Linked DNA regions of Homo sapiens: region 1 is linked to region 2. Evidence: fine-mapped expression QTL. A gene starts in region 2. The other region holds a variant in brackets. All regions are shown on one strand. Distances are from middle to middle.

The links. PIP is the estimated chance that this variant, and not a neighbour inherited with it, causes the effect. A credible set is the group of variants that fine-mapping cannot tell apart.
Region 1: its variant is the best candidate, but not a certain one, in a credible set for the expression of GLI4 in whole blood (TOPMed, PIP 0.57).

Annotation. Positions count from the first base shown.
Region 1 is chr8:143,238,653-143,241,550 of GRCh38, reverse strand. No RefSeq gene overlaps it. Among named protein-coding and RNA genes, the nearest start is that of ZFP41, 6.8 kb to the left of the region's middle. The variant A/G (reference allele first, on the strand shown) is at 1,415.
Region 2 is chr8:143,265,803-143,268,700 of GRCh38, reverse strand. It overlaps GLI4 (GLI family zinc finger 4), which reads right to left and starts at 1,256. Exons shown (of 4, transcript NM_138465.4): 1 at 1,217-1,256. RefSeq lists an enhancer at 1-240 and silencers at 801-920, 1,081-1,790.

The sequences.
Region 1 (2,898 bases), 27 kb after region 2:
CCCTAACTTTTAACCCTCTTCTCTCCTGCGTTACCTTCCCAAGACTATCCTCCTGTGTCCCACAGTCTTTTACTATTTTGGCTACCAAGTCTCACTCTGTTGCCTCAGCTGGTCTAAAACTCCTGGGCTCCAGCAGTCCTCCCACCTCAGCTTCCCAGAGTGTTGGGATTACAGTCGTGAGCCGCTGCACCTGTTCCATAGTCATTTTAAATTTCTTTCCAAAATGTAGACACTTTTCTGTATTTTGGCACTCAGATGGACTTTCTTTTTCTGGAAAATGTTTTGAGAGCAACCTCAGGCCCACAGCCAGTTCCTTTTCTCTCTTCTGTGCAGTTTTCCTGGGTGGCCCTTACTTTGTGAAGGTCTGTGCAGGACACTGGAGAGAGAGCTCACTGGGATTTTGTGTTTTCTTTTCTTTTCTTTTTTTTTTTTTGAGACAGATTTTCGCTCTTGTCCGCCAGGCTGGAGTCCAGTGGTGCAATCTCGGCTCACCGCAACCTCCGCCTCCCGGGTTCAAAAGATTCTCCTGCTTCAGCCTCCCAAGTAGCTGTGATTACGGGCACGCACCACCACATCCAGATAATTTTGTGTTTTTAGTAGAGACGGGGTTTCTCCATGTTGGTCAGGCTGGTCTTGAACTCCCAATCTCAGGTGATCCACCCACCTCGGCCTCCCAAAGTGCTGGGATTACAGGCGTGAGCCACCGCGCCTGGCCTGCGTTTGCTTCTTTTTCCCTTTTTAATGCGGCTACGAGAACCTTAGCAGTGACCCCAGGACTGCTGTGCTGAACTCCTGAACCGCAGTGTTCGCTTCTTTACTGCCCAAGGATAAGAGCGTCAGCTCCACCAGGGTGCTTCACAGACAGCGGGCGCTCAGCTAGTGCCTGTGGACTGATTGACTGGCTGACTGATGAGCCCTGGGGTGCGGGTCCTCCTGGGGCCCAGGACTTGCACTGGAACCCCTGTGGGCATTGAGCCTGGGATACCAGCCTCAGTGGGTGACTGAGCCACTGACACTGCCCCTGGAGAGCCCATCGCCCTGGTGCCCTGTGCCTGTGGCATCCTTCTCCGCAGCGGCTGGCACAGGCAACAGCTGTGGCTGAGATCCTCCCGGCATCCTGGGCACAGGCATCAATCACCTAGTTTCGTGCTTGACTCACTGCTGGTGGTGTCTCCACTTTGCAGATAAAACAATGAAGGCTCAGAGGGTTTAAGAAACTCGACAGTGTCAAAGCACTGGGCCTGGACATCAGCACCACTGCTGGCTGTGTGCCTTGGGATGGTCAGTAGATTTCCTGTCAAATGGGGCAAGATGATAGCACCTGCCCTGTGGGGTCATTGTGAAGGCTACGTGAAAAGTCCTCACAAAGCCCTTAGTGCAGTACCCACTTGCTAAACTTGGCTTGTAATTTATA[A/G]GTTATTTTAAAATGGGGGCAATGTGCCCACTGGCTGCACCCATGGCCGTCTCGGGAGCTGCCATTGTCAGTGACTGGTGTGGGGCCAATCAGCACCTCTGCCCTCATTTCACTCTCTCTCCAGCCCAAACGTTCAAGGGGCTTAAAGAATCTTCCCACTGGATGGACTGAGCCATCCTAAAACCATCCTAAAACAGCGCCACACTTTTAGAAGCCAGAATCTAACTTTTAGAAGTTAGAAAGTTTTGATTCCGGTCGGGCGCGGTGGCTCACGCCTGTAATCCCAGCACTTTGGGAGGCCAAGGCAGGTGGATGATGAGGTCAGGAGTTTGAGACCAGCCTGACCAACACGGCGAAACCCCGTCTCTACTAAAAATACAAAAAAAATTAGCCGGACATGGTGGCGGGCACCTCTAATCCCAGCTACTTGGGAGGCTGAGGCAGGAGAATCGCTTGAACCCAGGAGGCCGAGGTTGCAGTGAGCTGAGAATGTGCCACTGTACTCCAGCCTGGGCGATAGAGCAAGACTCTGTCTAAAGAAGAAAAAAAAGTGAGTTTTGATCCCAAGGACATTCCAGTCATACTAATGGATCCGTCAGGGTTGCATCAGAGGAACAGAGCCCACAGAGACAGGTGTGTAGACGCAGGCCTGCGCTTTGCTTTGTTCCAGGGCTTGGACCTCCCAGGACTGTGGGGCCTGCTGAGCGGTGTGCTGGAGCCTGGATCCACAGGCAGGCGCCCAGAGTCTCGGACAGCAGGTGGGATGGAGCCAAGGCAGGCGGGTCTGGGTCTGGATTCCAACCCCTGCACCCCACTGCTGATGTGGGCAAGCTCCTCAACTTCAGATGCCCTCAGCGTTCCCACCCGCACGATGTTCAGATGCCCTCAGTGTTCCCTCCTGCACAATGTTCAGATGCCCTCAGCGTTCCCTCCTGCACAATGTTCAGATGCCCTCAGCGGTCCCTCCTGCATGACGGGGTAGGAACAGGATCTCATGGGATCTTCAATGAAGACCAAATGGTGTGAAGATGGAGGATGCCCAGGATGGTGTGGGGCATGGCAGGGCCTAGGGAGTGCCCAGGTCTTCCCTGCCTGGCGGGACAGCTGCTACCTTGGTTTTCACGCCCTTTATGGCATTGGTTCCTAAACCTGCTCATAATCAGAATCAGTTTGGAATCTTTTTAAGAAAAAAAAAAAAAAAAAAAGGGATTTCCAGACATCATCCAAGAGCTGGTCAAACAGAATGCCATTGGGGTTAAGCCTCATAACCTGTAATTTTAGAAGCTTCCCAGTGACTCTGATGATCAGGCAGGGCCTGAGTGGCAGCAGATGGCACAAGCTCCCTGGTGCAGTGGGGCACAGCTCGGGCTGTTCATTTGAAACTCCTAAGAGCTTGGAGAAATGCTGACCAGTCCCCCACCTCTAAGAGATCCCACTGTAGCTGGGGTAGGGGCAGAGGGGCTGGCATCTAGCATCAGCGTTTT
Region 2 (2,898 bases):
CCCCCAGAGAAAGGCATAGGGAGTCTTCCAGAAAAACCTCAGCTGCTGGCCCTGTGGGAGGGCTGAAAACCGAACCATGCCTGCTGCGCATGAGTGTTTTGGAGGAAATCTTAATAAGGTTTTTCCCGAACAGCAGAGAAGAGACGTTTCCAGAGGGCAACTCTCTTCCTCAGACCCTACAGAGCCCTCAGAGACTGCAGGCTGGAATCCCCTAGTCCAGCCCTGCAGCAGCACTGGGAGACTCACTCAGGGCTCCAAGACACTTCTTAGTTTACTTTGCAAAAACGGCTTGAGTCCAATGTGAAAAGTGACTTTTCTTTCATACTGTGATAGAGTAGGAACTCCTAATCTGGGGCAGGGAGTGAAGAAAGGAACGGGAAAAGAGGACAAAAGTTAACGGATACTCAGATCTAAGAACAGCAGACAGTGCCTGCTTCGAGGAAGTGGGAGAGGCAGCTCCCACACGGCCGCCACCCCAGTGCCCGGCTTCTGGGCCAGCCTCCATCCCCTAATGATGGGAAGGGTCAGGTCACCAGGTAGGTGGCCACTGGGTGCAGGTCCTCCACCCTGAAGTCACATCTCAAGTTACTTAGTTAACTTACTGGGGACACCTGGTAAAAGGGCCTGCTCGATCACCCCGACCCTGGCTTGGCCCCCAGGACTGAGCAGAGGCGACCATCACAGCGTGGACGCCCCTTCACCCCCAGGGACGCACAAACTCTGAGCTCCAGACTGAAGGGGGAAGGGCACTCCTGCCAGCGGCTCGGGGGAAGCATCCTCTGCCCCTCTGTTCCCAGCCCCGTGGGAGCGGACCCAATCGCCGGGAGCTCGGCACAGAGCGCGTCCGCCCGGCGGTGCGGCGCTGGGGTCCGGCGGCTCCTCGCTCCGGAGCGGCGGGACCTCCGGGCCTCAGTTTCCCATCTGCAGAGTGGCGATGACGACAGCTGCCGTCACTGGGTGCCTGGGAAAGGCGCCCTGCGAACGGACACCCGCTATCGCCAGGGCCGCTGGGCGGGGCGGTCCGCTGCTGCTCCGCGACCCCCAGGAGCCCACCCCGCTCCCCGGGCTTGGCCCAAGGCCAAGGTCACGGCGAGCGGCGGCTGCAAGGGCCGCACGGCCCGGCTGGGCAGGGCTGCACCGCGGAGTACGGCGCACGAGCTCGGACTGGGCTGGTCCCAGGCACCCGGAGCCGCCGCCGCCGCCCGCGCCCACTCACCTTCCGAGCGGGAGGAGGACGCCGCGCGCCGGACGGAAGTGTCCGGCCCCGCCCCACTCCGCCCGGCCGGCGCGCACTTCCGGGACGCTCTGGGCCCCGGGAGGACCGCACGCCTCGGTGGCCGTGTGGGGGCGGGGCCGGGAGCGAAGAGGAGGCCTTTCCCCGCCCCTCCCCTCGTGGGCTGCGCCCGCGCGTGGCTTTCGCGTACACGCTGGCCCGGATCCCGCCCGCGCCTGCAAAGCGCCCGGGCGCGGGGAGCGGCGCTGCGTGGGGCGCAGAAGCCGGCGCCTCGGAGCCTCCTTCCCGACGCCGGCCCTGCACCGCCCGGGGAGCCAGCGCGGGGCCGGGCTTCGGGAGATGACGGCGCCGTCCCCACGCTGCCCGCGGCCCCTCCGTGCACTCCAGGCCTCCGGGGGTCCTCGGCTGGAGTTGCTTCCACGTTCAGCTCGCGAGTCCCCCCCGCCGCCCTCTTGGGTTCCCTCCTCGGGATGTGTCCGCAGCGATGGTCACCGGCGGCCGGGAACCGCTGCGAGACGCGCGACCTCCCGCTCCCCTCGCGGGGGCCCCAGCGCCCTCGATTCTGCCTGCTTTCCAGGGGCGTCCCCGGGAGCCTGAGGAGGATGTTACAGGTTCCCCAAAGCCCCTTCATGGACTCCTTCCTCATTTTCCTCTTGTTCAGCCACAGTTTCTCCCTCAGTTCTGTGCTTACGACCTGAAAAGAGAAAATTGTCACTTTCTGGGAAAAATAAACGGCCGGGGAGGGTTCTTTGACCGTTTTGAGCAGGGGTGCAGAGAGCCGAGGCGAGGGGACCCCTGAGCTGGAGGGGCACGCGGAGCAGAGGGCGGGGGGGCCTGCAGACGGGCAACAGCTGCCAGGGTGGACGCTCAGGGCTGTGTGGGTGGAGGAGCCCCCAGGCTGATAATATGTAAAAATCTCTAAACTCTACCGCAAGAAAACAAACATTCCAGTTAGAAAATTGGCAAGAGCCGCAACAGACGTTTGACCGAAGAGGGCACAGGGATGGCAATAGGCTCGGGAAGGGATGGCTGTCAGGGAAGGGCCGGCCAGCATCGCGGTGGGTGCCACTGCACACTTGCCAGGTGGCTCAGGTAAAAACTGCTAACAAGTGCCAAGCATCACTGAGGTCGCGGAGCAGCTTGGGACATCGCCAGTGGTAAGGCAAAGTGGTGCTGCCATTCTAGAAATTGGCTTGGTAGTTTCTTAAAAAGTTATAAGTAGCGCCGGGCGCAGTGGCTCACGCCTGTAATCCCAGCACTTTGGGACACTGAAGTGGGTGGATCACCAGAGGTGGGGAGTTTGAGACCAGCCTGACCAACAGGGAGAAACCCCATCTCTACTAAAAATATAAAAAAGCTACCCGGACACGGTGGCGGGCACCTGTAATCCCAGCTACTTGGGAGGCTGAGGCAGGAGAATCACTTGAACCGGGAGGCGGAGGTTGCATTGCGCCGAGATCGCGCCACTTCACTCCAGCCTGGGCAACAGAATGAGACTCTGTCTCAAAAAAAAAAAAAAAAAAAAGGAACTAGTACTATATCTGATACTGTTTGGAAGTGAGCCCCCTGCACATCTCATGGAAATGTGGCCCCTGATGGTGGCGGTGGGACCTGGTGGGAGGCTATTTGGGTCATGAGTAGCTTGGTGCCCTCTCCTTGGTGAT